Regions from separate parts of the Homo sapiens genome. Here regions 1, 3, 4 and 5 are each linked to region 2. Evidence: fine-mapped QTL for protein levels in blood plasma. A gene starts in region 2. Each other region holds a variant in brackets. All regions are shown on one strand. Distances are between the middles of the regions.

The links. PIP is the posterior inclusion probability: the model's chance that the variant is causal. Protein levels are from antibody-based Olink assays in UK Biobank. Linkage for the fine-mapping came from a reference panel and not from the study's own genotypes, which makes the PIPs less certain.
Region 1: its variant is fine-mapped to the plasma level of the NECTIN2 protein (UK Biobank, PIP above 0.99).
Region 3: its variant is fine-mapped to the plasma level of the NECTIN2 protein (UK Biobank, PIP above 0.99).
Region 4: its variant is fine-mapped to the plasma level of the NECTIN2 protein (UK Biobank, PIP above 0.99).
Region 5: its variant is fine-mapped to the plasma level of the NECTIN2 protein (UK Biobank, PIP above 0.99).

What each region holds. Positions count from the first base shown.
Region 1 is chr19:44,825,865-44,830,991 of GRCh38, forward strand. No RefSeq gene overlaps it. Among named protein-coding and RNA genes, the nearest start is that of NECTIN2, 18 kb to the right of the region's middle. The variant A/G (reference allele first, on the strand shown) is at 1,982.
Region 2 is chr19:44,844,194-44,849,311 of GRCh38, forward strand. It overlaps NECTIN2 (nectin cell adhesion molecule 2), which reads left to right and starts at 2,104. Exons shown (of 9, transcript NM_001042724.2): 1 at 2,104-2,420. The coding sequence starts at 2,333. RefSeq lists silencers at 468-867, 1,735-1,784, 1,865-1,944, 2,075-2,174 and an enhancer at 3,814-4,796.
Region 3 is chr19:44,764,133-44,769,259 of GRCh38, forward strand. It overlaps the pseudogene LOC124900431. Among named protein-coding and RNA genes, the nearest start is that of MIR8085, 8.0 kb to the left of the region's middle. The variant T/C (reference allele first, on the strand shown) is at 2,848.
Region 4 is chr19:44,856,070-44,861,069 of GRCh38, forward strand. The region is part of intron 1 of NECTIN2 (nectin cell adhesion molecule 2); the gene reads left to right. Among named protein-coding and RNA genes, the nearest start is that of NECTIN2, 12 kb to the left of the region's middle. The variant G/A (reference allele first, on the strand shown) is at 1,898.
Region 5 is chr19:44,699,538-44,704,664 of GRCh38, forward strand. It overlaps CEACAM16 (CEA cell adhesion molecule 16, tectorial membrane component), which reads left to right. Exons shown (of 7, transcript NM_001039213.4): 2 at 1,824-1,956; 3 at 3,812-4,156; 4 at 4,481-4,759. The coding sequence starts at 1,920. The region is part of intron 1 of CEACAM16-AS1 (CEACAM16, CEACAM19 and PVR antisense RNA 1); the gene reads right to left. Among named protein-coding and RNA genes, the nearest start is that of CEACAM16, 3.0 kb to the left of the region's middle. The variant T/C (reference allele first, on the strand shown) is at 3,070.

The DNA of each region.
Region 1 (5,127 bases), 18 kb before region 2:
ACAAGCAGGCACAAGAATTCCATAGAGACACACTGTGATGGAGGTTGTCATATCTGCACAGTCCATTCATTGGAGGTGTGGGGATCAGTAGCTTGGGTCAAGTAGTTTGTATCTATCTAGCTGTCCCATACAGAGATGGTCCCATACAGGAGGAGGTGAGATAAAGCTGATACCTTGATCAACTCCAGTAAGAAACTGGAAGGAGAGCCGGGCATGATGGCTTACACCTGTAAACCCAGTGCTTTGAGAGGCTAAGGCAGGAGGATTGCTTGAGGCCAGGATTTTGAGACCAGCCTGGACAACATAATGAGACCCTGTCTCTAAAAAAGAAATAGAGAGAAGGAAGAGAGGCAGGGAGGGAGGGAGGAAGGACTGGGAGGAAGTATAGAGCTGGAAACTGTGTCAAGGATAACTAAGTCCAGATTTTGGCATGAGAAAGTTAAACATATTCAGAATGGATGCTAAGACAATATAGAATTATACAAATTCACCACAATGGCATATTAATTTGTTTTCATTTGAATTTCCGTGACCTCTAGTGTGAAAATGGTGTTTCTCTGTATGTTCATTGGCCATTTGCTTTTCTTGTTTATGAACTGTGGTATACTCTTGCCTACTTTTCTCTTTTTTTTTTTACCTTTTCTTATTAATTTGCAGGATCTCTCTACACACCAGGAATATTAACCTCTAATCTTATAAAGCTTTTATCTCAGGCTGGGTGCCGTGACTCACGCCTGTAATCCTACCACTTTGGGAGGACGAGGTGGGTGAATCACTTGAGTCCAGGAGTTCAAGACCAGCCTGGCCAACATAGCGAAACCCTGTCTCTACTAAAAATACAAAAAAATAGCCAGGCAGGGGGTAGCCAGGCATGCCTGTAATCCCAGCACTTTGAGAGACCAAAGCAGACGGATCGCTTGAGCCCAGGAGTTCAAGACCAGCCTGACCAACATAGTGAAACCCTGTCTCTACTAAAAATACAAAAAATTAGCCGGGCATGGTGGCGCATGCCTGTGATCCCAGCTACTCAGGAGGCTGAGGCAGCAGGGTTGATTGAGCCTGGGAGTTCGAGGCTGCAGTGAGTCTTGATTGCACCACTGCACTCCAGTCTGTGTGACAGAGTGAGACCCTGTCTTTACATAGATATAGACAGATGATGATAGATAGATGATAGATAGATAGATAGATAGATAGATAGATAGATAGATAGATGATAGATAGATAGATAGACAGATAGATGATAGATAGACAGACAGATATCCACATAGATACCTCAAACCTATTATGTCCCAAATCGACCTCCAGTCTTTCCTCTCGCATAAATGGTATCCCTGCCCTCCAGCTGGGTGAGCCCAAAACTTAGAATTTATCCTGGATTCCTCCATTTCCTTTACCTCCCACTCACATAACCCAAAGGCACATCCCATGGGTCCCCTCCCATACAGCTCTCTTTCCTGACCACTTATCCCCCGGCTTCCCATATTCAATAAACCTTTTAACTCTATACCCTGCCACAGGGCATAGAGCTGCAGCTAGCTCTTTCTACAAATGGTTTCACGGCCATCAGTCCAAACATACATCTTCTTTCACCTGGATCAATGCACTTATAAAAGCAAATGCTCAACAGCAATCTTTGATGGCTCTAATACTCACATCAATTAAAAATTTAAACGTTACCTTTCAGTCACCCTTCCCATCCTTTTAAAGTGGAATTCCTAAATCTAAAATGGTAAAAGTTAAAAAAAAAATAAAACACCAAGCTCATATGGCTCTATAAAATACAGAATAACTTTAAAATGTATCTTATAGGCGGGGCTGGGCATGGTAGCTCACGCCTGTAATCCCAGCACTTTGGGAGGCTGAGGCGGGCGGATCACAAGATCAGGAGATTGAGACCATCCTGGCTAACACGGTGAAACTCCGTCTCTACTAAAAATACAAAAAATTAGCCGGGCGTGGTGGCGGGCGCCTGTAGTCCCAG[A/G]TACTCGGGAGGCTGAGGCAGGAGAATGGCGTGAACCCAGGAGGCGGAGCTTGCAGTGAGCTGAGATCATGCCACTGCACTCCAGCCTGGGCGACAGAGCGAGACTCCATCTCACAAAAAAAAAAAGAAATTATCTTATAGGCAATACTTTCACTTGTCAATTCTCTTTATTTATTTATTTATTTTTTGAGACGGAGTCTCGCTCTGTCGCCAGGCTGGAGTGCAGTGGCGAGATCTCGGCTCACTGCAACCTCCACCTCCCGGGTTCAAGCGATTCTCCTGCCTCAGCCTCCTGAGTTACTGGGACTACAGGCACATGCCATCACGCCCAGCTAATTTTTTTATTTTTAGTAGAGACGGGGTTCCACCATGTTGGCCGGAATTGTCTCAAACTCCCGAGCTCAGGTGATTGGCCCACCTCGGCCACCCAAAGTGCCGGGATTACAGGTGTGAGCCACTGCGCCCGGCCAATTTTTTTTTTTTTTTTTTTTTTTTTTTTTTTTTTTTTTGAGATGGAGTCTTGCTCTGTCGCCCAGGCCGGAGTGCAGTGGCGCAATCTTGGCTCACTGCAACCTCCACCTCCCGGGTTCAAGCGATTCTCCTGCCTCAGCCTCCAGAGTAGCTAGATTACTGGCGCATGCCACCATGCCCAGTTAATTTTAGTAGAGACAGAGTTTCACCGTGTTAGCCAGGATGATCTTGATGTCCTGACCTCATGATCTGCCCACCTCAGCCTCCCAAAGTGCTGGGATTACAGGCGTGAGCCACCATGCCGGGCCAATTTTTTTTTTTAAGATGTAGTCTTGTTCTGTTGCCCAGGCTGACCCATTGCTCTCATGTATGTTTGTTTGTTTGTTTGTTTTTGAGACAGGACCTGGCTCTGTCGCCGAGGCTAGAGTACAATGGTGCAATCATGACTTACTGCAGCCTCGACCTTGGGCTCAAGTGATCCTCCCACCTCAGATTCCCCAGTAGCTGGGACTACAGGTGCATTGCCCTCAGGCCCAGCTAATTTTTGTATTTTTTGTAGAGATGGGATTTCACTAAGTTGGCAAGGCTGGTCTCAAACTCCTGACCTCAGGTGATCTGCCCGCCTCAGCCTCCCAAAGTGCTGGGATTATGGACATGAGCCACCATGCCCTGCCTATAACTGCTTTTAAACATAATTTTATACTTTTCCAGGAGCGTCCTAATGCATACGTGTACTGCGTATTCTCGAAATTTATGCTTTTTTAAAACATAAACCAGGCCTGGCACGGTGGCTCATGCCTGTAATCCCAGCACTTTGGGAGGCCGAGGCAGGTGGATGATCTGAGGTCAGGAGTTTGAGACCAGCCTGGCTAACATGGTGAAACCCCGTTTCTACTAAAAATACAAAAAATTACCCAGGTGTGGTGGTGCGCACCTATAATCCCAGCTACTTGGGAGGCTGAGGCAGGAGAATCGCTTGAACCCAGGGGGCAGAAGTTGCGGTGAGCAGAGATCGCACCATTGTACTCTGGCTTGGGCAACAAGAGTGAAACTCCGTCTCAAAAATAAATAAATAAATAAATAAATAAATAAATAGCAGATTAGAAACCCGTCTGTGACTCAGGTTTTCTCATTTCTCTTAGAATAAAATTCAAACTCCTACAAAAGGCTGCGTGCATAGTGCCTCTCTCTCTGCCATCCCTAGCTTCACTTTCCTTGCCTGCATCCTATCAGACAGTCTGTCTCTCCAGCCCTTGAATATTTTGTTTCTTTCCTACCTCTTTTTTTCTTTTTTTGAGACAGGGTCTCGCTCTGTCACCCAGGCTGGAGTGCAGTGGTGTGATCATAGCTCACTGCAGCCTCAAACCCTGGGGCTCAAGCAGGTCCTCCCACCTCGGCCTCCTCAGTAGCTGCAACTACAGGCATGCACCACCACAGCTGGCTAATTAAAAAAAAAAAAAAAAACTTTTACAGATGGGGTTTCTCTGTGTTGACTAGTCTGGTCTTGAACTCCTGGCTTCAAGAGATCCTCCTGCCTCAGCCTCCCAAAGCTCTGGGATTACAGGCATGACCCATCACACCTGACCAGGACTCTCAAACTTACCCTTCATTTGTCCTGAAATCTTTCACTACAGATCCTCACGTAATTCATTCATTCTCATACTGCAGATTTTGGCTCAAAATAGCACCTAGCCAGAAATGTCTTTCAGACTCTCTTATTTTAAGGAGCTCTTGCCCCAAACCCACCCAAGTTACTTCCATCATCCTAAGTATTAATACTTTTGCTTGATTTTGTTCTTTTCTAGTTTCTGGGTTCTATGCATAGACCATTTTTACTAATATTCATATTTTCTTTTAAATACCTTAGAAAGATATTTTAGATTTCTTCATTTGAGCCATGCACATTCTTTGAAAATTTATCCTAAAATAGCTGGGCACCCAGCCCATCCCTTGAACCCAGGAGGTGGAAGTGGTAGTGAGCTGCGATTGTGTCGCTGAACTCCAGCCTGGGACACCGAGTGAGACTCCATCTCAAAAACAAACAAACAAACAAAAAAATGTTGGGCACAGTAGTTCATGCCTAGTCCCAGCTACTCAGGAGGCTGAGGCACGAGGATCACTTGAGGCCAGGAGTTTGAGATCAGCCTGGGCAACACAGCAAGACCTCACTCTAAAAAAAAATGTTAATGCTAACATATAACTTTGGTTCTGTTTGTGATTGGCATATGGTTTATATTATACTTTTTTTTTTTATTTGAGATGGAGTCTCACCCTGTCGCCCAGGCTGGAGTGCAGTGGTGTGATCTTGGCTCACTGCAACCTCCATCTACCATGTTCAAGCGATTCTCCTGCCTCAGCCTCCAGAGTAGCTGGGATTACAGGCATACACCACCACACCCAGCTAATTTTTGTATTTTTTTTAGTAGAGACAGGGTTTCACCATGTTGATCAGGCTGGTCTCAAACTCCTGACCTCGTGATCCGCCCGCCTTGGCCTCCCAAAGTCCTAGGATTACAGGAGTGAGCCACCGCGCCCAGCAAAAAGTTTTTTAACTAGCTGAGTATAGTGGCACGAGCCTGTAGTGCCAGCTACTCAGGAGGCTGTGGCGGGAAGAGGGAGGCTGCAGTGAGATATGATCGCACCACTGTACTCCAACCTAGGTGACAGCAAGAACT
Region 2 (5,118 bases):
GTTTGAGACCAGCCTGACCAACATGGTGAAACCCCGTCTCTACTAAAAATACAAAAATTAGCCGGGCGTGGTGGCGCGCGCCTGTAATCCCAGCTACTCAGGAGGCTGACTCAGGAGAATCGCTTGAACCCAGGAGGCAGAGGTTGCAGTGAGCCGAGATCGCGCCACTGCCCTCCAGCCTGGGCGACAGAGCGAGACTCCGTCTCAAAGAAAAAAAAAAAAAAAGGATCATAACTAAGACTCGAATGCGGAGGGATAACAGCCTCTGCTACTTGAAACCTAGTCCTTCTGGGGAGGAAAGCCCAGGTGTGTGGCAGGTGGAAGGGAGGGCGAGCCTAGGTGGTCCTCTTGCTAGGGCAAGAAGCCCCCAAGCACCTGCCCCCAGCTGAGCAGCTCCGCGCCTCCTGGCCCTGGACGAACTTGGGCCCAGACTGGCGCTCCGTGGCACCCCCTCCCCCGGCCTCCCGCTTCGCGCCCTCATCCCGCCCCCCGGCGCGGCCTCACCAGCTCCCCCTGGGCAGCCCAAAGAATGCGAAGAGGTAGGTGGGGGTAGGGAGGAGGGCGAGCCGCTGGGAGAGACAAAGGGCCCGAGTCTGAGCGAGAGACACAAAGACGCGAGGAGGCTGGGGAGATAGGGGAAGTGGGACAAGGACGCGGGGAGTGACCAGGTCCGGAGGCCGGACTGGAGCCCAGCCCCACCCAGCCCGGCCGGGCCAGCGCAGCGCGGGGGCCGGTCTCTGCTGCCCCCTGGCGGGTGGCTGCGGTGAGAAGGCGGCGCGGAGCAGGTGTTGGGAGGGGAGGACCAGGGCGCGCAGGGAGGTAGGGAGGGAAGGAAGCAGAGAACAGAGCAGGGACAGAGAGACAGCGAGAGAGACTCGCACGCAGAGACAAGAGACGCCGAGAGGGAGACACAGAGAAAGAGACAGGGACAGAGAGACACAGATAGAGACAGAGAGAGACACACGGAGAGACAGAGACAGAGAAGCACAGAGATAGAGAGGCACAGAGATAGAGACAGAGAAACACAGAGACAGAGAGGCACACAGAGACAGAGAGGCACAGAGACAGGCCGATAGAGACAGAGATACACAGAAATAGAGACAGAGACAGAGAGGCACACAGATAGAGACAGAGAGACACAGAGACAGAGTCAAAGGATGGAAAGAGACATGGGGACCAAGTGACCCAGAAACAGTGACAGACAGGCCGGGCTTGGTGGCTCACGCCTGTAATCCCAGCATCTTGGGAGGCCGAGCCGGGAGGATCGCTTGAGGCCAGCCTCAGCAACATAGTGAGACCCCGCCGCCCCCCCGCCCCGTCTCTTTTATTGAAATAAAGAAACAGTGACTGACAAAGGAAGACCAGAAACAGAGCGACACCGAAGCATGAGGACGGAAAGACCCAGAGAGGCAGAAATACAGGGACAGAGAGGAAGACCCAAAGAGAGTGAGAGAGACACAAAGACACGTAAGAGAGACAGAGAAATCCAGAAAGAAACGAGTGCAGCGACACCTAGAGTTCGGGGCAGAGATTAGAAACGCACGAGGGTACGAGAAACAGGCTCAGGGCGATGGGCTCGACCTGCGGGGAGGTCGCACAACCGGGACGTGCTGGGGGCAGAACCGTAAAGCCCCACGTGCCTCAGGCAACTGTGATGAGAGGACCCGGGCAGGCAGGAAAGGGCAGGATTCGAACTGTGGGTGGGACAGAGGCCAGGACGGACTGAGCTAAGAGACCGAGAGAACTCCGGCTAGGGCGAGGGGCGGGGCTGGTGGAGGCGGGGCTGGTGGGGGCGGAGTCGGCCGGAAGGGCCGAAAGGGGCGTGGCAAGACCTTGGCGAGGCGGCCGGTAGGCAGGGGGCGGGGCGTGGGAACTACTCGGGAGCAGAGGGGGCGTGGCTAGACCTTAGGGGGCGTGGTTTAACGCCGGGAGCGAAGGAGACAGAATTCTTTGGCAGGGGCGACCTTAGAATCCTGGGGAGGAGCGAGAATGGAATCCCGGGGAGGAACAGGGGTGGAATCCGGGGGGCGGGGTCAGAACGCCAGGAGGGGGCGGGGCCGGAGCCAGGGTCGGCTTGACTCGGGGGAGCAGCGGGTGGATCCTGTGACGTCAGCGGGTTCGAACCGCCGGAGCTGAGCGAGAGGCCGGGGGTGCCGAGCCGGGCGGGGAGAGCTGGGCCGGGAGAGCAGAACAGGGAGGCTAGAGCGCAGCGGGAACCGGCCCGGAGCCGGAGCCGGAGCCCCACAGGCACCTACTAAACCGCCCAGCCGATCGGCCCCCACAGAGTGGCCCGCGGGCCTCCGGCCGGGCCCAGTCCCCTCCCGGGCCCTCCATGGCCCGGGCCGCTGCCCTCCTGCCGTCGAGATCGCCGCCGACGCCGCTGCTGTGGCCGCTGCTGCTGCTGCTGCTCCTGGAAACCGGTGAGACGAGCGGACGGCCCCCTGCCCTCGCGCGGACCCCCTCCAACCTTACCTTCCGAGCTGGGGAAGCCGAGCACCTTCCCCGCCCACCCCCGGCTCCCCGAGCCCCCTCTCGCGTGCCCCCTTCCTGGCTGGCCCCACAGACTCCGACCCCCTACACGTCCGATTCTCTCGAGGAGACTCTGACCCCTCCTTTCTGCATCTCTCTCACCACCACCCCCATCCTTCTTAATCCAATTGCCCATCCTACGCCTGCTTGTCTGTCCCCCTCCCCATTTCTCGGATTCCCGCGCCGAAAGGGTTAAATCCCAGGAAGGCCTGGTGCCCCCTCCCCACCCCGCGCCGAGTAGTTCACCCGGATCTGGGTCTCTGTCTCCTCTACCCCTCTCAGGAATGTGGGGAATGTTCCCCCCACCTACCGCAGTAAGGTCTCGAGGAAGAGGCGAGACCACCTCCCTCCCCTATTTTTCCTTCTTCCCGGCTTGGGCGTCTGAGGCCCGGAGAGAACTGAGGACAAGCGGACCTGATTCGGGTCCCTTGGAGGGCTAAGGATAAGAGTTCTGGCGACTTAGGGGGAAGGGCCTGAGCTCGGAGCTCCAACCCCGAACCTCAGGGAGTTGGGGGTTCTGACTCCGTGGACTCCAGAAAAATTAGGGGCCGGGGGCTCCGTCTTCAGGGTCCCTGGTAGAATGGAGGCTAGGCGCTAAGTCTAACTGGGATCTAGGTAAAACTGGGGGCGAGAGAGGATCAAACTTGTAGCTTCTGGATTTAATTGTGGGCAGGGGGCTTCGTTTTCAGGGTTCCCGGCAGAACCGGGGGACAGGAGACTCGATCTCGTGGGCTTCAGACTTAATTGTAGGCAGAGGAACGTCTTCTGAGATCCAAACAGAAGTGCGAGCAGCGGGCCCCGTCTCTTGGGCTCCAGATATGATCAAGGGTCGAAGGCTCTGTCTTGAGGCTGGAGTCTCAGTCGCCTGAGTCCCAGATAGAACGGGAGGCCCCGAGTCCCAGAGGCTGGGAGACTCCTCCCTTTCCCTATGAATGGTCGGGGGCGACGGAGACGTCGCCGGGGAAGTTTTCCTGGTTTCACTCTCGCCGAGCCAGGGAGGGGCGGGGCGGGCGCTCCTGGCTCCGGGTTCCGGACTCCCCGGTTTCGGGACCTTATCTATCCTCTGGTAGCGCCTTTGTCCTCAGAGCCATAGCAGGAGGTGGACGAGTGGAGCCGCCGCCCTTATCCCCCGTCCCTCCCATTGCTATGCCTTGGACCCCCTGGCGTCCTTCCATCCACCCCACTAGGGGAGGAGAGCGGCCCCCCTGGGGAGGGAGGGGCTGGGAGGGAACCCTTGAAAGAGGCGCTGGCCCCGCCCCTTGCAGGTGACCCGGTTGTGTATTCCCAGCGACAAACTCTGGGATGCTAGAGTTTCCCGAGGGTTTGCGCAGAAGAGAGCTCAGGGGGATCTTGGGGGAACCCCGGCCACCTCTCTGGCCTCATTTCCCCCAGGATGGCTCTCACTGGCCTCCCAGCTTTGACCCAGAGCTGGGAACTCCGCTTCCATCCCCTGCCTCTCCCTTCAGGCAGAAATAGGCAGATGAGATCAGAACTGGCACCTCTGGGTGAATTCTCCGAACCCACCAGACCCTGAGCCTACTGTTAGCTTGGTGCATGATCTCACCGAAGGCTCCAGCTTGCCCTGGGAAACAGGTCCTGTTTCTGTTTCCATCTTAGAGATGAGGAAACAGGCTCAGCAAAGGCAAGCAGCCTTCTCAAGGTCTCACAGCAGGTCCCGGGGAAGCCGGGCTCCGGTTCTTCAGAGCCCCGCACCGGGTGGGCTCCAGGAAGTGCCTCTGAGTTTCCATTTCCTCCCTCGTAAAAAAACTGAGATAACAATCCTTTCCCTGCGGACCATCCGGAAGGCTCCCAGGCCCCACTGATTCCCTGTGAAACCTCTTAGCCCCTGGAGAAGGAGCTGTCGGCCCCTTTCTTGACCACCCCCACCCCAATCCTTCGCCTCTGCTGTCCACTGGCTGGCCGGCTGGCATGTGCTCGCTCTCCCTCTCTCTCTCTCTCCCCTCCCCCTCCCTGTTTTCCTCCTTCCCTCACTTTCTTTCCCCCTCTTCATCTCTCTTCGTTTCTCACCCTTTCTCTCTCCATCCCTCTCCAAGCTCTTTCTCTCTTCTCCTCTCCCCATCTCTCTCTCTCCTCTCCGTCTTTCTCTGTATACCTGTCTAGCTCCACTGCCTCCCCCGCTTGGCCTCCTCGGGGAATGCGGGTGCACCACCTGGGCCCCCAGCTGGGCCGGCTCCCCTCCCCCAGCTTTCTTCCCTGCCCATCCGTGTGTCCATGTCCGCCAGGCAGCCCCACGTAGTGGAGGGGGAGGGGAGCAGAGGGACGGCAGCCTGGCTGTCTCCTCTCATTAGGGAAGGGGGACTGGGCAGAGGAGAAGTTGGGGGGTGGGTATATAGAGAGGCTGGAGCTACAAGGATGGGTACAGAGGCCAATAGAGGGAAGCGGTCAGACACAGATTTAGGAATGGGGTCAGAGACACGTGTAGGAATGGAATCAGAGGATAGAAGGGGAGTGAAATGCCGGCACAGGGTCGGGGGAGTGAAATACCGACACAGGGATGAGGCTGAAAGACACTGGAATGGGACGGAGGAGGGTGGGGGAAGGGAGCTAGACATAGATACCAGATGAAGG
Region 3 (5,127 bases), 80 kb before region 2:
AGGAAGGAAGGAAGGAAGGAAGGAAGGAAGGAAGGAAGCAAGCGAGGGAGGGAGGGAGGGAGAGATTATTTCTATGTTTCCTGGTCAACATAGTGAGACGCTGTCTCTACAGAAGATCAAAAAATGTGTTGGCTGAGCATGAGCCTGGTGGTGTGTGCCTGCAGTCCCAGCTACTTAGGAGGCTGAGGTTCAAGCATCACTTTAGCCCGGGATGTCAAGGCTGCAGTGAACTATGATCACGCCACTGCATTCCAGCCTGGGTGCCAGAGGGAGATCCTGTCTCTTGTTTTGTTTTGTTTTGTTTTGTTTTGTTTTGTTTTGTTGTTACTAAGTCTCACTCTGCTGCACAGGCTGGAGGAGTGCAGTGGTGCAATCTCTGCTCACTGCAATCTCCGTCTCCCAGGTTCAAGCAATTCTCCTGCCTCAGCCTCCCAAGTAGCTGGAATTACAGGCATGCATCATCATGCCCAGCTAATTTTTAATTTTATTTATTTATTTATTTATTTGAGATGAAGTCTCGCTCTGTCGCCCAGGCTGGAGTGCAGCGGCGCAATCTCAGCTCACTACAAGCTCCACCTCCCGGGTTCACGCCATTCTCCTGCCTCAGCCTCCCGAGTAGCTGGGACTACAGGCACCCGCCACCACATCCAGTTAATTTTTTGTATTTTTAGTAGAGACAGGGTTTCACCATGTTGGTCAGGCTGGTCTCAAACTCCCGACCCCAGGAGATCCTCCTGGCTCAGCCTCCCAGAGTGCTGGGATTACAGGCATGAGCCACCGCACCCAGCCAATATTTATGTTTAATCCTTAGAGCAACTTGCAGGTTTGCTCCAAGGTTTAAACATGAACACTAGTCAAGCTAATTGTGCTCCTCTCCTCCTATGCAGTGGCGGCAAACAGCAGTGCCCTCAGTAGTATACGCAGCCTGCTGCGTGTAGCGGTGGCCTTAAGAGACCTTGGAGATAGCCCTTTCCGATGCATGTTCATGTTTCTGATCTTGACCTCACCCCAGTCTAGACTCCAGACAGGTATGCGAGGCGCCTTTGGAAAGCCCCAGGGTGTGGTGGCCAGGGTTCACATTGGCTAAGGCATCACGTCCATCCGCACCAAGCTGCAGAACATGGAACACGTGATTGAGGCCCTACCCAGGGCCAAGTTCAAGCTCCCTGGCCACCAGAAGACCCACATCTCAAGGCGGTGGGACTTTACCAAGTTTAGTGCAGATGAATGTGAAGACACGGTGGCTGAGAAGTAGCTCATCCTGGATGGCTGTGGCATCAGATACATCCCCAATCATAGGCCCCTGGAATAGTGGCGAGCCCTGCTTACTCACACCCACCAATAAATCCTCCTTCCTGTCCAAACCGAAAAAAAAAAAATATGAACGGGACACAGTGGCTCACGCCTGTAATCCTAGCACTTTGGGAGCTGGAGGTGGGCAGATCGATTGAGCCCAGGAGTTCAAGACAAGCCTGGGCAATATGGTGAAACCCTGTCTCTCCAAAAAAAAAACAAAAATTAGCCGGTATGGTGGTGCACGCCTGTAGTCCCACCCACTGGGGAGGCCGAGGTGGCAGGATCACTTGAGCCTAAGAGGTCAAGGCCGCAGTGAATCAAGATTGCGCCACTGCATTCCAGCCTGGGTGACAGAGAGAGACCTTGTCTCAAAAAAGGAAAAAGGTGGGGGGAAGTAAATTTTGTGCAATACTTATTACAGGCCATGGTGCTGAGTAAGAGCTTCATAAATGGGAATTGCTGTTGCCATCATCTAAGAATTTTTGACAGTTTTGAGGTCAGAGGAAACACAGTAGAGACGATGAGACCTATTCTTTGTCCTGGTAGAAAAATGGAACAATGAGGTCATAGCCTAGATGTGTGTTTTAGCTACATTTTTTTTATTCCACGGTTGTAATTAAATTAAATAATATAGCTGGGCATGGTGGCACACACCTGTAGTCATAGCTACTCGGGAGGGAGGCTGAGGCATGAGGATCACTTGAGCCCAGGAGTTTGAGACCAGCCTGGGCAATGTAGTGAGACCCCATCTCTTGAAAGAGTGAAGTGACTCGCATCTGTAATTCCAGCACTTTTGGAGGCCAAGGCAGGAGAATTGCTTGAGCCCAGGAGTTTGAGATCAGCCTGGGCCACATAGCAAGATCCTCTCTCTACAATAAAAAAAAAAAAATTATATTAGGTGCCTGTGGTCCTAGCTATTCAAAGGCTGAGGCAGGGTGCAGTGGCTCACGCCTGTAATCCCAGAAGTTTGGGAGGCCGAGACAGGCGGATCACAAGGTCAGGAGATCCAGATCATCCTGGCTAACATGGTGAAACCCCGTCTCTACTAAAAATACAAAAACAAAATTAGCGAGGCGTGGTGGCAGGCACCTGTAGTCCCAGCTACTCGGGAGGCTGAGGCGGGAGAATGGGGTGAACCTGGGAGGCGGAGCTTGCGGTGAGCTGAGATCGCACCACTGCACTCCAGCCTGGGTGACAGAGGAGACTCCATCTCAAAAAAAAAAAAAAAAAAGGCCGAGAGGAGTTTGAAGCTGCAATGAGCTATGATTGCACCACTGCACTCCAGCCTAGACAACAGAGAGAGACCCTATCTTTAAAAAATATATAAAACAAAGAGCCTGAGTAACATGGCAAAAGCCTGGGTAACATGGCGAAACCCTATCTCTACAAAAAAAAACGCAAAAATTAACCAGGCATGGTAGCGTGCATCTGTAGTCCCAGCTACTCAGGAGGCTGAGGTAGGAGGACCACTTGACACCGAGAGGTCAGGGCTACAGTGACCTATGACTGCACCACTATGCTCCAGCCTGGGTGACAGAGTGAGACCCTGTC[T/C]TTAAAAATATAATAAATAAAAGAAGAAATATAGTAGCTTTTTTTTTTTTGAGACAGAGTCTTGCTCTGTCACCCAGGTTGGAGTGCAGTGGCAAAATCTCAGTTCACTGCAACCTCTGCCTCCCAGGTTCAAGCGATTCTCCTGCCTCAGCCTCCCGAGTAGCTGGGATTACAGGAGCCTGCCACCACGCCCGGCTAATTTTTGTATTTTTAGTAGTGATGGAGTTTCGCCATGTTGGTCAGGCTGGTCTTGAACTCCCGACCTCAGGTGATCACCCACCTTGGCCTCCCAAAGTGCTGGGATTACAGGCATGAGCTACCACGTCCACCCAATAGTAGCTTAAATAAGATGAAAGTCTATTTTTCTCTCATGTAAAGGCCCAGCGAACACCCGCATCTAGAATAGTAGCCAAGGATGTCAGAGATCGAGGCTCCTTCTACCTGGTTGTTCTGCTGCCCTCACCTCACACTTCCATTGTGTGGTCCAAAATGGCTGCTCCAGCTCCCACCATCACATCCACATTCCAACCACTGGGAAGAAGAAACAAAAGTCAATCGCATGCCCCTACCTTTAAAGCTACAACCCAGAAGTCATACACATCATACACATCACATCCTATTTGGCCAGAATTTAGTCACATGACCACACCTATCACAACAGAGGCTGGGAAATGTGGTTTTATCTGGGCAGCATGTACCCAGCCAAAATTCAGGGGTTCTGCTACAAAAGGAAGAGGAGAGAATGGTTATTGAGGGGCCGCACATGTATCTGTCACAACCAGGGCTCTGCCACCAAATGACTAAATGACTCAAGGTGAAGTGACTTCACCACACTGAGCCTCAGTTTCCTCACCTGTAAGAAGGGAATCCCCCCGACCCCTTGGGGTTGATGGGTTGTTGGGCATTTAATGAGAGTGTGAGTGTCAGGCACTTAGCCCAGGACCTGGCCCATCATCAGTCTGGAGTGTGTTGGAAGTCCTCTTGTGCTTGTGGGTCTAGGCTGTGGGTGATGTGGCTTTTCGTGTATGAGAAACCGTCCCGGGGCTTGAGAGCTGAACCCAGCACTGAACTTTATAAGTAACTTCTCTAAAACAAGGGATCTGGCCTCTGTACACATGGAAATCCCCACTCAGCCTCCTAGACCTTGGGACTAGGCACATGTCCTTCCACAGTCTTCCCCCTTCCGCTGGAGAAAGGCAGACTCCAAAGATGGAGGAAGGGTCCTGCTTGGGGTCTCCAGCCTCCCAGCCTTCACAGAATTAAGCACTCATAGCCTGGCCAACATGGTGAAACCCCGTCTGTTCTAAAAATACAAAAATGTGCTGGATATGGTGGCACACATCTGTAGTCCCAGCTACTAGGGAGACTGAAGTGGGAGGATTGCTTGAACCTGGGAGGGGGAGGTTGCAGTGAGCCAAGATCGTGCCACTGCACTCCAGCCTGGGTGACAGAAAAATAATAATAATAATTCAATCACTCACCCCTCAACTTCCAAAGCTCCTCATGGGTGACAGTCCCAGCATTCCGGGGACAGCTCTAACGCCAGAAGTCATACCTTCAATGCATTTCTCGGGGCTCCACTCGCTTGTCCTCACCACATTGAGTAAACCCAGAAAGACAGAGGACATCTCTCCTAGATGCGTGTGTGAAATCTGCCAGATTCTAAATGCCTGGGACATTCCAAAAAGTGACTTTAAGAGCATTGGCCGGGCACAGTGGCTCACACCTGTAATCCCAACCCTTTGGGAGGCTGAGGTGGGAGGACAGACTGAGCCCTGGAGTTCAAGACCATCCTGGGCAACATGGGTAGACCCCGGCTCTAACCCCGAACATGGTGGCACGTGCCTGCAGTCCCAGATACTCAGAAGGCTGAGGTGGGAGGATCGCTTAAGCCCAGGAGGTTGAGGCTGCAGTGAGCTGTGACCATGCCACTGCACTCCAGCCTGAGTGACAGCGAGAGACTTTGCCTCAAACACACACACACAGAGTCAGGGGACGGTGGCTTACACCTGTAATCCCAGCACTTTGGGAGGCCAAGGTGAGTGGATTGGCCAGGAGTTCAAGACCAGCCTGGGCAACATGGCAAAATCCCATCTCTACAAAAATTAGCCAGGTATGGTGGCACCCACCAACTTGAGAGGCTGAGGTAGAAGGATTGCTTGAACCCAGAGGCAGAGGTTGCAGTGAGCTGTGATTCAGCCACTGCACTCCAGCCTGGGCGACAGAGGGAGACTGTCTCAAAAAACAAAAAGAAAAAAAAAGAGTGTGAGAGGTAAACAG
Region 4 (5,000 bases), 12 kb after region 2:
GTAGGCAGATCACCTGAGGTCGGGAGTTCGAGGCCAGCCTGGCCAAGATGGTGAAACCCTGTCTCTACTCAAAATACAAAAATTAGCTGAGTGTGGTGACATATGCCTGTAATCCCAGCTACTCGGGAGGTTGAGGCAGAATTGCTTGAACCCAGAGGCAGAGGTTGCAGGGAGCCAAGATGGCGCCACTACACTCTGGCCTGGGTGATACAGCGAGAATGTGTTTCAAAAAAATAAAATCCTAAGACCTATTAGCCTCCTCCCCAACACTCAGTCTCAGTCTTAACCTCTTGTTCTTTTCATTGCCAACTTTTTGTGTCATTTTGCTGTCTGGTCATCTATCTCTGCTCAGCCCACCACCTTCCCCTCAGGCCTCCTTGGATGAAGTTAAGTCATTCTCTATTTGAAGAACCCGCAACGGCTCCCACTTGCCACAAAGAGGAAACTAACTTCCTCGGCCCCAGCCTACTTTGCTGTCTCTGCAGTTCACACAGGCCCAAATGGCTTTCCTTGACCCTCATTGAGTGGCCTTCCCCCCTTGCCTAGCTAGGAAGGGGCCAGAGCGCTTAACCACCCTGATCCCAACCTTAGTGCCTTTGGGGGCCAGGCGGGTGATAAGTCCCAGCACCTGGGGAATCTGGAGGAGCCGGAAGGGAGTGTGCCTTGTGGGAGGGGGGTGATGTCCTTCCTCAGCCCCACCCAGCTGTTGCCCCCAGGAGCCACATATCCGGACTTCTGTCTGGAGCTTTAGACAGCAATCTCCAGGCCTTCTGTGTGGGCTGCTACTTCCCAACTGAAATAACACTCTGTGGGCCAAAGCAAACATGCACCACAGTCAGATCTGGCCTGCAGCAGGCGGCTGACCCCTGCTGCTCTGCTCACCTGGGCCACGCCCCGTGAACATCCCCCATGAGCAAGTCCTTCCCTGGAACTGGCACAAGGGACCCTGGAGGGTGGCTGAAACATCCCCATTTTACAGATGGAGGAAGTTGGGCTTGGAGACAAGGCTGCCAGCTGGAAAGGGTGTCAGCGTTAAATAACAAGATTCAGAAAATAGGATTAAGTATAGAGTTTATTCAAGCCTAAAGCTTGAGGATGGCCACCCCGGAGTGTGGATTCAAGTTGCCCCAAATAAACCCTTTGACTAGCTGTGATTACAAGTGGACTTTTTTTTTTTTTTTTTGAGACAGGGTCTCACCCTGTCACTCAGTCTGGAGTGCAGTGTGTGATCATGGCTCACTGCAGCGTCAGTTTCTCGGGCTCCTGGCCTTGAGTGATTCTCCTGCCACAGCCTCCCTAGTAGCTGGGACTACAGGCCCTAGCCATCTTGCCCAGCTATTTTTTTTTTTTGAGACGGAGTCTTGCTCTATTGCCCAGGCTGGAGTGTAGTGGCACAATCTCTGCTCACTGCAACCTCCACCTCCCGGGTTCAAGCAATCCTCCTGCCTCAGCCCCCCTAGCAGCTAGGATTACAGGCACCTGCCACCATGCCCGGGTAATGTTTATTTTTTTAGTAGAGATGGGATTTCGCCATGCTGGCCAGGCTGGTCTCGAACTCCTGACCTCAGGTGATCCACCTGCTTTGGCCTCCCAAAGTGCTGGGATTACAGGCGTGAGCCATCGTGCCGGGTTTTTGTTTTTGTTTTTTTTTTTTTAAGAGATGAAGTCTCACTATATTGTCCAGGCTGGTCTCAAACTCCTGGCCTCAAGTGATCCTCCACCCACTTCGGCCTCCCATAGTGCTGGGATTACAGGCATGAGCCAACGCACCCAGTCTGCAAGTGGATTTTTAAGGAACAAAGAAGAGAGAGTTCCTAAATTGTTACCAAGAATTTACATTGAAACAGCATAAGGTATCTGCAGGTCTGGCTCAGAAAAAAAGATAACAGAAGGTATT[G/A]ATTGGCTATGCACTGTTTATTGTATCACAAATTCCAGGAACAAGAAGCTAATGGGGAGGGCAGCTGTGCAGGAACCACTGCCTCGGGCATGGGTGGAGGAGGCGTGTGACCGAAGTCCCCTATTCACTGTACAGTCTCCCTGGGCCTGATACATTTCGCATAGCTCAGACTGATCTGAGCTATTTTTCTTTTCTCAAGTTGGGTGGGGGTGGCCCCTCTGGACTGGAAAAGCCTCATTTTTCCCCCAAGTGACACACCTGAGTTTGTTTGACTTGTTTCCCCCAAGTGACACACCTGAGTTTGTGGGACTTGTGTGGAGATGATGTATTTATGTCACACTTCAGTCTTCGCTGATGGCTTTTTTTTTTATATTTATTTACATTTTTTCTTTTAAGGTAGGCAGGGCCTCATTCTATCGCCCATGTTGGAGTGCAGTGGCGAGGTCTCTGGGTTCAAGTGATTCCCCTTCCTCAGCCTCCCAAGTAGCTGGGAATACAGGGGCCCGCCACCACGCCCAGCTAATTTTTGTATTTTTGGTAGAGACGGGGTTTCACCATATTGGCCAGGCTGGTCTCGAACTCCTGACCTCAGGGTGATCCATCCGCCTCGGCCTCCCAAAGTGCTGGGATTACAGGCATGAGCCGCAGCACCCAGCCTTTTTTCTTTCTTTCTTTTCTTTTTGTTTCCCCTCCCGAGACCGAGTCTCTCTCTGTCACCCAGGCTGGAGTGCAGTGGTATGATCTCAGCTTACTGCAACCTCCACCTCCCGGGTTCAAGCAATTCTCCCACCTTAGCCTCCTGAGTAGCTGGGATTACAGGTGCCTGCCACCACACCCAGATAATTTTTCTATTTTTAGTAGAGATGGGGTTTTGCCATGTTGGCCAGTCTGGTCTCAAACTCCTGGCCCCAAGTGAGCCTCCTGCCTCGGCCTCCCAAAGTGCTGGGATTACAGGTGTGAGCCACCACACCTGGCCTTATTTTATTTTTAATTTCTGTTCTTGTATTGCTATAATTTACTGATGATTTCTTACCCAAAGATCCTCGGCCTGTCCCCACCCAAGGGGACTGCCTTCCACCGGGGACCCCTCATAAGAGTTACTCATTAGGATGGTGTTCCCTGGGGTTCCTGTGTGTATGACGCCAGGGCCTGTGCACCGCCTCCATGGCCCATCTCCATCAGACAGAGCTGGGCAGTGGTGTTGGCCCTCGAAATGAGGCTTGTGCCCTGGCCTTTCCTGGCCTGGGGGCTGAGTGCCAAGGCCACCTGTAATTAAACTGAGCTTCCTATGTTTACTTAGCAAGCACTGACCTCTCATTTCCTGGGGCCCTATGCTGAGTGTTCCACAGCTATTCTTTAATCTTTAAACAGCCCTTGGGACGCAGGCACTATTATTAACCTCACATCACAGCTGGGGAAACTGAGGCACAGAGAGGTTAAGTGGCCTGCACAAGGTCGCAGAGCCAGGATTCAAACCCATGAACTATGGGCCACTCAGTCGCCATGCTGTACTGCCGTGCACAGCAGAGGAAGATTTGTTCTTGTTCTTGTTTATATTAAAAGTGAGAAAACATGGGCCACACGCCGTGGCTCACGCCTGTAATCCCAGCACTTTGGGAGGCCAAGGCGGGTGGATCACCTGAGGTCAGGAGTTTGAAACCAGCCTGACCAACATGGTGAACTCTGGTCTCTACTAAAAATTCAAAAATCAGCCGGACCGTAGTGGCTCGCACCTGTAATCCCAGCTACTCAGGAGGCTGAGGCAGGAGAATCGCTTGAACCCAGGAGGCAGAGGTTGCAGTGAGTTGAGACCGTGCCACTGCACTCCAACCTGGGTGACAGAGCAAGACTCCGTCTCCAAAAAAAAAAAAAAAAGGTGAGAAACCACTTAGGCTGGCTGAGAACTGCAAACATGCGTCCACATAAAAACTTGAACTTGCATGATCCCAGCAGCTTTATTTATCAGAGCCAAAAAGTTGAAACAACCTCAATGCCTATCAGCGGCTGAATGGATAAACAAAATGTGGTCCGTCCATGTAGTGGAATATTATTGAGCCTTAAAGAAGAGTGAAGCGCCGACACGTGTTACAGATGGATGAACCTGGAAAACAAGATGCCAAGTGAAAGAAGCCAGACACAAAGGCTACATAGTCTATTACATGAAATGTCCAGAACAGGCACATCAACAGAGACAGAAAGTTGCATCGTGGCTGGGGGAATGGGAAGTGACTGCTTAATGGATAAGGGGGTTACTTAGGGAATTATAAAAATGCCCAGGCTGGGCGCAGTGGCTCATGCCCGTAATCCGAACACTTTGGGAGGCCGAGGCAGGTGGATCGCTTGAGCTCAGGAGCCTAAGCAACATGATGAATCCCCATCTCTACAAAAAATACAAAATTAGCTGGGTTTGGTGGCTCGCACCTGTAGTCTCAGCTACTTGGGGGGCTGAGGTGGGAGGATCACTTCGGCCCCAGAGACGGTTTGCAGTGAGCAGAAATCGCGCCATTGCACGCCAGCATGGACAGAGTGAGATCCTGTCTCAAAAAATAATACCTTAAAACTGATTATAGTAACAGATGTAAAACTCCAAATATACTTAAAGCCACTGAATTGTACTGTATTTTTTATTTTACTTTTTTATAAAAAAATTATATATATATATTGTTTTTTCTTTTCTTTTCTTTTTTCAAGACAGAGTCTCACTTTATCACCCAAGCTGGAGTGCAGAGGCGCGATCTCGGCTCACTGCAACCTCCGCCTCCTGGGTTCAAGTGAACACGTCCGGCTAATTTTTATATTTTTAGTAGAGACAGGGTATTTCACCGTGTTGGCCAGGCTGGTCTCAAACTCCTGACCTCAAGTGGCCCACCCACCTCGGTCTCCCAAAGTGCTGGAATTACAGGTGTGAGCCACTGCACCCAGCCTTAATTGTATACTTTAAATGGGTGAATTGTGTAGCGTAAGAATTTATATCTCGATAAAGCTGTTTAAAAAAAAAAAAAACTACGTAAAAAATGAGCAAAGGACCCGAAGAGACATTTTTCTAAAGAAGACATACAGGCAGCCAACAAACATGAAAAAATGCTCAACATCATTAATCATC
Region 5 (5,127 bases), 140 kb before region 2:
AGCTAATTTTTGTATTTTTAGTAGAGACAGGGTTTCACCATGCTGGCCAGGCTGGTCTTGAACTCCTGACCTCAGTTGATCCACCCACCTCGGCCTCCCAAAGTGCTAGGACTACAGGCATGAGCCACTGCGTCCGGCCATGAGCCACCACGCCCGGCCAGAGCCTATACTTTTAATAACAGGCATACCAATCAGACCCACGTCCACCAGGCTCTGGCTTAAATCCCTGACTTGTAGCCTCTCACTAACTGCTGTCAACAAACCTGAAGTAGGGTCCATATCATCTCTATTTTTTTGTTTGTTTTTGAAATGGAGTCTTGCTCTGTCACCCAGGCTGGAGTGCAGTGGCAGGATCTCGGCTCACTGCAACCTCTACCTCCTGGATTCAAGCGATTCTCCTACCTCAGCCTCCCTAGTAGCTGGGATTACAGGCATGTGCCACCATGACCGGCTAACTTTTATTTTTTGTTTTTGCTTTTGTTTTTTGAGATAGAGTCTCACTCTGTCACCCAGGCTGGAGTGCAGTGGTGTGATCTCAGCTCGCTGCAACCTCCACCTCCTGGGTTCAAGAGATTCTCCTGCCTCAGCCTCTCGAGTAGCTGGGACTACAGGTGCACACCACCACACCCAGCTAATTTTTTATATTTTTAGTACATACGAGGTTTCACCATATTGGCCAGGCTGGTCTCGAACTCCTGACCTCGTGAGCCACCTGCCTTGGCCTCCCAAAGTGTTGGGATTACAGGCGTTAGCCACCACACCCAGCTAACTTATATTTTTAATAGAGACGGGGTTTCGCCATGTTGGTCAGGCTGGTTGCAAACTCCTCACCTCAGGTGATCTGCCCATCTCAGCCTCCCAAAGTGCTGGGACTACAGGCACCTGCCACCACGCCTGGCTATTTTTATTATTATTATTTTTAGTAGAGATGGGGTTTCGCCATGTTGGCCAGGCTGATCTCGAACTCCTGACCTCAAATGATCCGCCTGCCTTGGCCTCCCGAAGTGCTGGGATGACAGGCATGAGCCAGTGCACCCGGCCATCATCTCTATTTATCAGAATAATAAATGGAGACTCAACAAGGGACTGTCCCCAGCCCCACTTTGGGTAAGTGCAGAGCTGGTGTCAAAACTCAGCTCTCCTTGGCCCCAAAGCCTCCGAATACGCCCATTTGACAGAGAGGGGAAAACAAGGCCTCCGAAGTGGGAGAAAGAGAATGTGAACTTCTGAGCACTTTGCAGGAAGCCAACAAGAAGGAGAGCCCCAAAGAAAGCATGTGGCCATACAGTTTCCTGCCCTTCTGTCTGGGTTTGCACACAGAGCAGGGCTCAAATCCCCTCTCCCTGCAGGAACCCGGACAAGTGGGAGTCCCCACCTAGCTCATCTCCATCTGCAAAGGGGGGTCCTAAAGGTGCCCACTTTACAGGGTTGTTTTGCCATCCGCTGAGACAACACCTGTAGGTCCCCTGCACTGGGTGGGGCTGGGAAAGGTGCAGTCACCTTTTACTGATTTTCTTCCTTGGTGACTCCCAGGCTCTCTGAGGAGGCCACGGGCCTGGGTGGTTGGTAAGAACTACCCGAAAACCTTCCCCTACTTTTCCTCTCTTCTCCTCGGTGACCTGGTTCCTCTCCCAGTACCAAATCCAGGCCCTCGGCACAAAGAGGGTTAGGCGGCTGCCCCAGGAGGCCTGCCCAGGTCACGGCCTCTGGCCGGTGCCCGCCACACCCACCCTGGTACCCAAACCGGGCCCCAGATCCTTGGTGACTCGATCCCTCCAAATTCAGGTGATCTCCCCTGGCTCCAAATCACCAAACCCTCCCAGGTCCTGCGGCAGACGGAGCCGAGCCCCAACCAGGAAGGGAGTCCGAGCACTGGGACTTCAACGCCACCATCTCCAAGACTCGGTTTGGGGTGAAAGATGGCGCTGACTGGGTACAGCTGGCTGCTCCTCAGTGGTGAGCGAGAATGGCACCCCCCAGCACCTCAGCCCCCCGAGGACCCCAGGGAGGGGAGGGGACCCCCAGTCTGAGAGAGGGAAGGTGTGAGCAGAAGTCCAGCGTGCTAGGGAGGGAGGGCAGCCCTGCTTCACACCGGCAGTTTACCCCTCCAAGAGGCATCTGCATTGGGCAGGCTGGGGACAGCCACCCAGAGAGGTTTTCAGGGTGGGCTTTGGAGATTTCTAAGCCCAGGGCACAAGCCAGGACAAGGGAGCCGCTGTTGCTCCTTCATTCCTGCAGGTTTCTGTTTTATCAGCTATGGAAGCCTTGATGAGGCTAAACTCTTCCCAGCAGCTGTTTCTCCCGGAAGATGTAGCTTAGGGCAGTTGCCTTTCCCTTCTCAGCCTCTGTGTACCCACCTGTGAATGGGGCCTCACTGACAGGGTCATGTAAAGGTCATTATAAGCAGCACCACATATGCCGTGTGCCCGGAGCTGTTCTGAGAGCTTCTCATGGTTTAAAACCACCTATGAGGGGCCGGGCAAGGTGGCTCACACCACTAATCCCAGCACTTTGGGAGGCCGAGGCGGGCGGATCACCTGAGGTCAGGAGTTCAAGACCAGCCTGGTTAACATAGTAAAACCCCATCTCTACTAAAATACAAAAAATTAGCTAGGTGTGGTGGCACATGCCTGTAGTCCCAGCTGCTCGGGAGGCTGAGGCAGGAGAATCACTTGAATCCAGGAGGTGGAGGTCACAGTGTGCCGAGACTGCACCACTGCACTCCAGCCTGGGCAACAAAGCAAGACTCCATCTCAAAAAAAAAAAACAACCCCAAACCACCTATGAGGGAGGCCCACACATGAACCGCACTTCATAGGGAGAAAACGAGGCTCAGAAAGGTGAAACCATTGGCCGCTGTCACACGGCCAGAGAGTGGCAGGACTGAGGGCTAGACCCAGAGACCCTCACTCCTAGCCACACTCTAACAGCCTGGAAAGTACCAGAAAGCTGGCCAGCCATGTCAGTCCTTTTGACGTGAGCACTGTCACAGCCGCCCGTTCCGGGCATTCAAACCACACGTCATTCAAACCCAAGCAGCCCCGACCAGCTCATCGGGCTTGGGGCTGA[T/C]CTGCTTGGTTGAGAAGGAAAGGGGTGGAGTGTGTTCATCTTACCCCTGCTTTCCGCTGTAGGCGAGCTTGGAGAGGCAGAGGCAGAGCCCCAGACTGGGAGTCAGGACCCAGGGGGCAGGCCCTGACATCCTACGTGGGGCCATACAATTAGCTGGGCTGGATACGCAGCCGGATCTCGCGAGACTTAGTTTGGTGACTGTCACGATGGGAAAACCCTTTGGGTCCGGCTTAAAGCCGCAGGTCCTGTGGGCCGAGCACTTGCTTTGCACTTGCTGTATGCAAGATGTGATGCTAGATCCTTGGCACAGTCCATCAGACCCAATCCTCACAACACACGCCTCCCTCCCTCGGACTGAGTCCCTCCCTGGGACTGAGCTCCTGCATCTGACTAACATGTATTGGGCACTTACTGTATACCAGGCATTGTAAGCATGGTATGTATACAGAATCCTTACAACCTTACCAGGCAGGTAGACCTGTCATCCCCATGTGAGAGTTGGAAGAACAGAAACACAGAGAAAGACAGTGTACTCGAAGCCATGCAGATAAACTCCCAGAAAGATTAGGTGGCTGAGATGTTGAGAGTCAGAGTTGCAGGTTCAAATCCTGGTTTTGCCTGTCCTCATTTACACAGAGGACACTGGGCTGGGGACATGCCCCGAGCCTGAGTCTCTTCTTCTGTCAAATGGGGCGATTGATCAAACCTGCCTCATCCAACCCCTCTGACTCCTCTTCCTCAGCCACATTCCTGAATGTGGGGGCCGAGATCTCTATCACCCTGGAGCCTGCCCAGCCGAGCGAAGGGGACAACGTCACGCTGGTCGTCCATGGGCTTTCGGGGGAACTGCTCGCCTACAGCTGGTATGCGGGGCCCACACTCAGCGTGTCATACCTGGTGGCCAGCTACATCGTGAGCACAGGCGATGAGACTCCTGGCCCGGCCCACACGGGGCGGGAGGCTGTGCGCCCCGATGGCAGCCTGGACATCCAGGGCATCCTGCCCCGGCACTCAGGCACCTACATCCTGCAGACCTTCAACAGGCAGTTGCAGACCGAGGTGGGCTACGGACACGTGCAGGTCCATGGTGAGACACCCCCCAACACCCGCCTCTGCCCCAGCTGGGCCTTCCCATCTCCTTCTCAATCCTTCTTTTTTTTAAAAAAAAAAAAAATCCAACAAATCATCAGGGAAACCATCAGGGAATAAGTTTCTAAAATAACCTCAAAATGCTCACCTCCTTCAAGATGGCCTCCAGGATTAGACCTGCCTCCTAAAACCATTCTTTGTCCCTCCGGCTGAGGGTGTGGGGGCCCAGCCACAATCCGGCCATGCCCCTTGTTGGGGGAAGGGAAGGCCCTCAGAGCAGGTGGTGTCCGGCCCCCTCCCCCTCTGTCTCTTGCCCCCACAGAGATCCTGGCCCAGCCCACAGTCTTGGCCAACAGCACAGCGCTGGTGGAACGTCGAGACACCCTGCGCCTTATGTGCAGCAGCCCCAGCCCCACCGCCGAGGTCCGCTGGTTCTTCAACGGTGGGGCCCTGCCCGTCGCTCTCCGCCTGGGCCTGTCCCCTGACGGCCGGGTGCTGGCCAGGCATGGCATCCGCCGGGAGGAGGCCGGCGCCTATCAGTGTGAGGTGTGGAACCCGGTCAGTGTCAGCCGCAGCGAGCCCATCAACCTGACCGTGTACTGTGAGTCCTCCTGGCCCCACTGGAGATACCCAGTGTCCAAACCTCATGGATGGGGAAACTGAGGCCAGGAGAGGGGGCCTAAGGGCACACAGCGAGTCAGCAGGCAAGCTGGGATTGGGGACCAGGGACCCCTCTTAAAGTGCACTTGCCCTCGCCAGGTGCAGTGGCTCACGCCTGTAATCCCAGCACTCTGGGGGGCCTAGGCGGGAGGATCACCTGAACCCAGAAGTTTGAGACCAGCCTGGGCAACATGGCAAGACCTCATCTCTACCAAAAAACATAAAAATTAGCCAGGCATGGTGGCACATGCCTGTAGTCCCAGCCACTCAGGAGGCTGAGATGGGAGGATTCCTTGAGCCCCGGAGGCC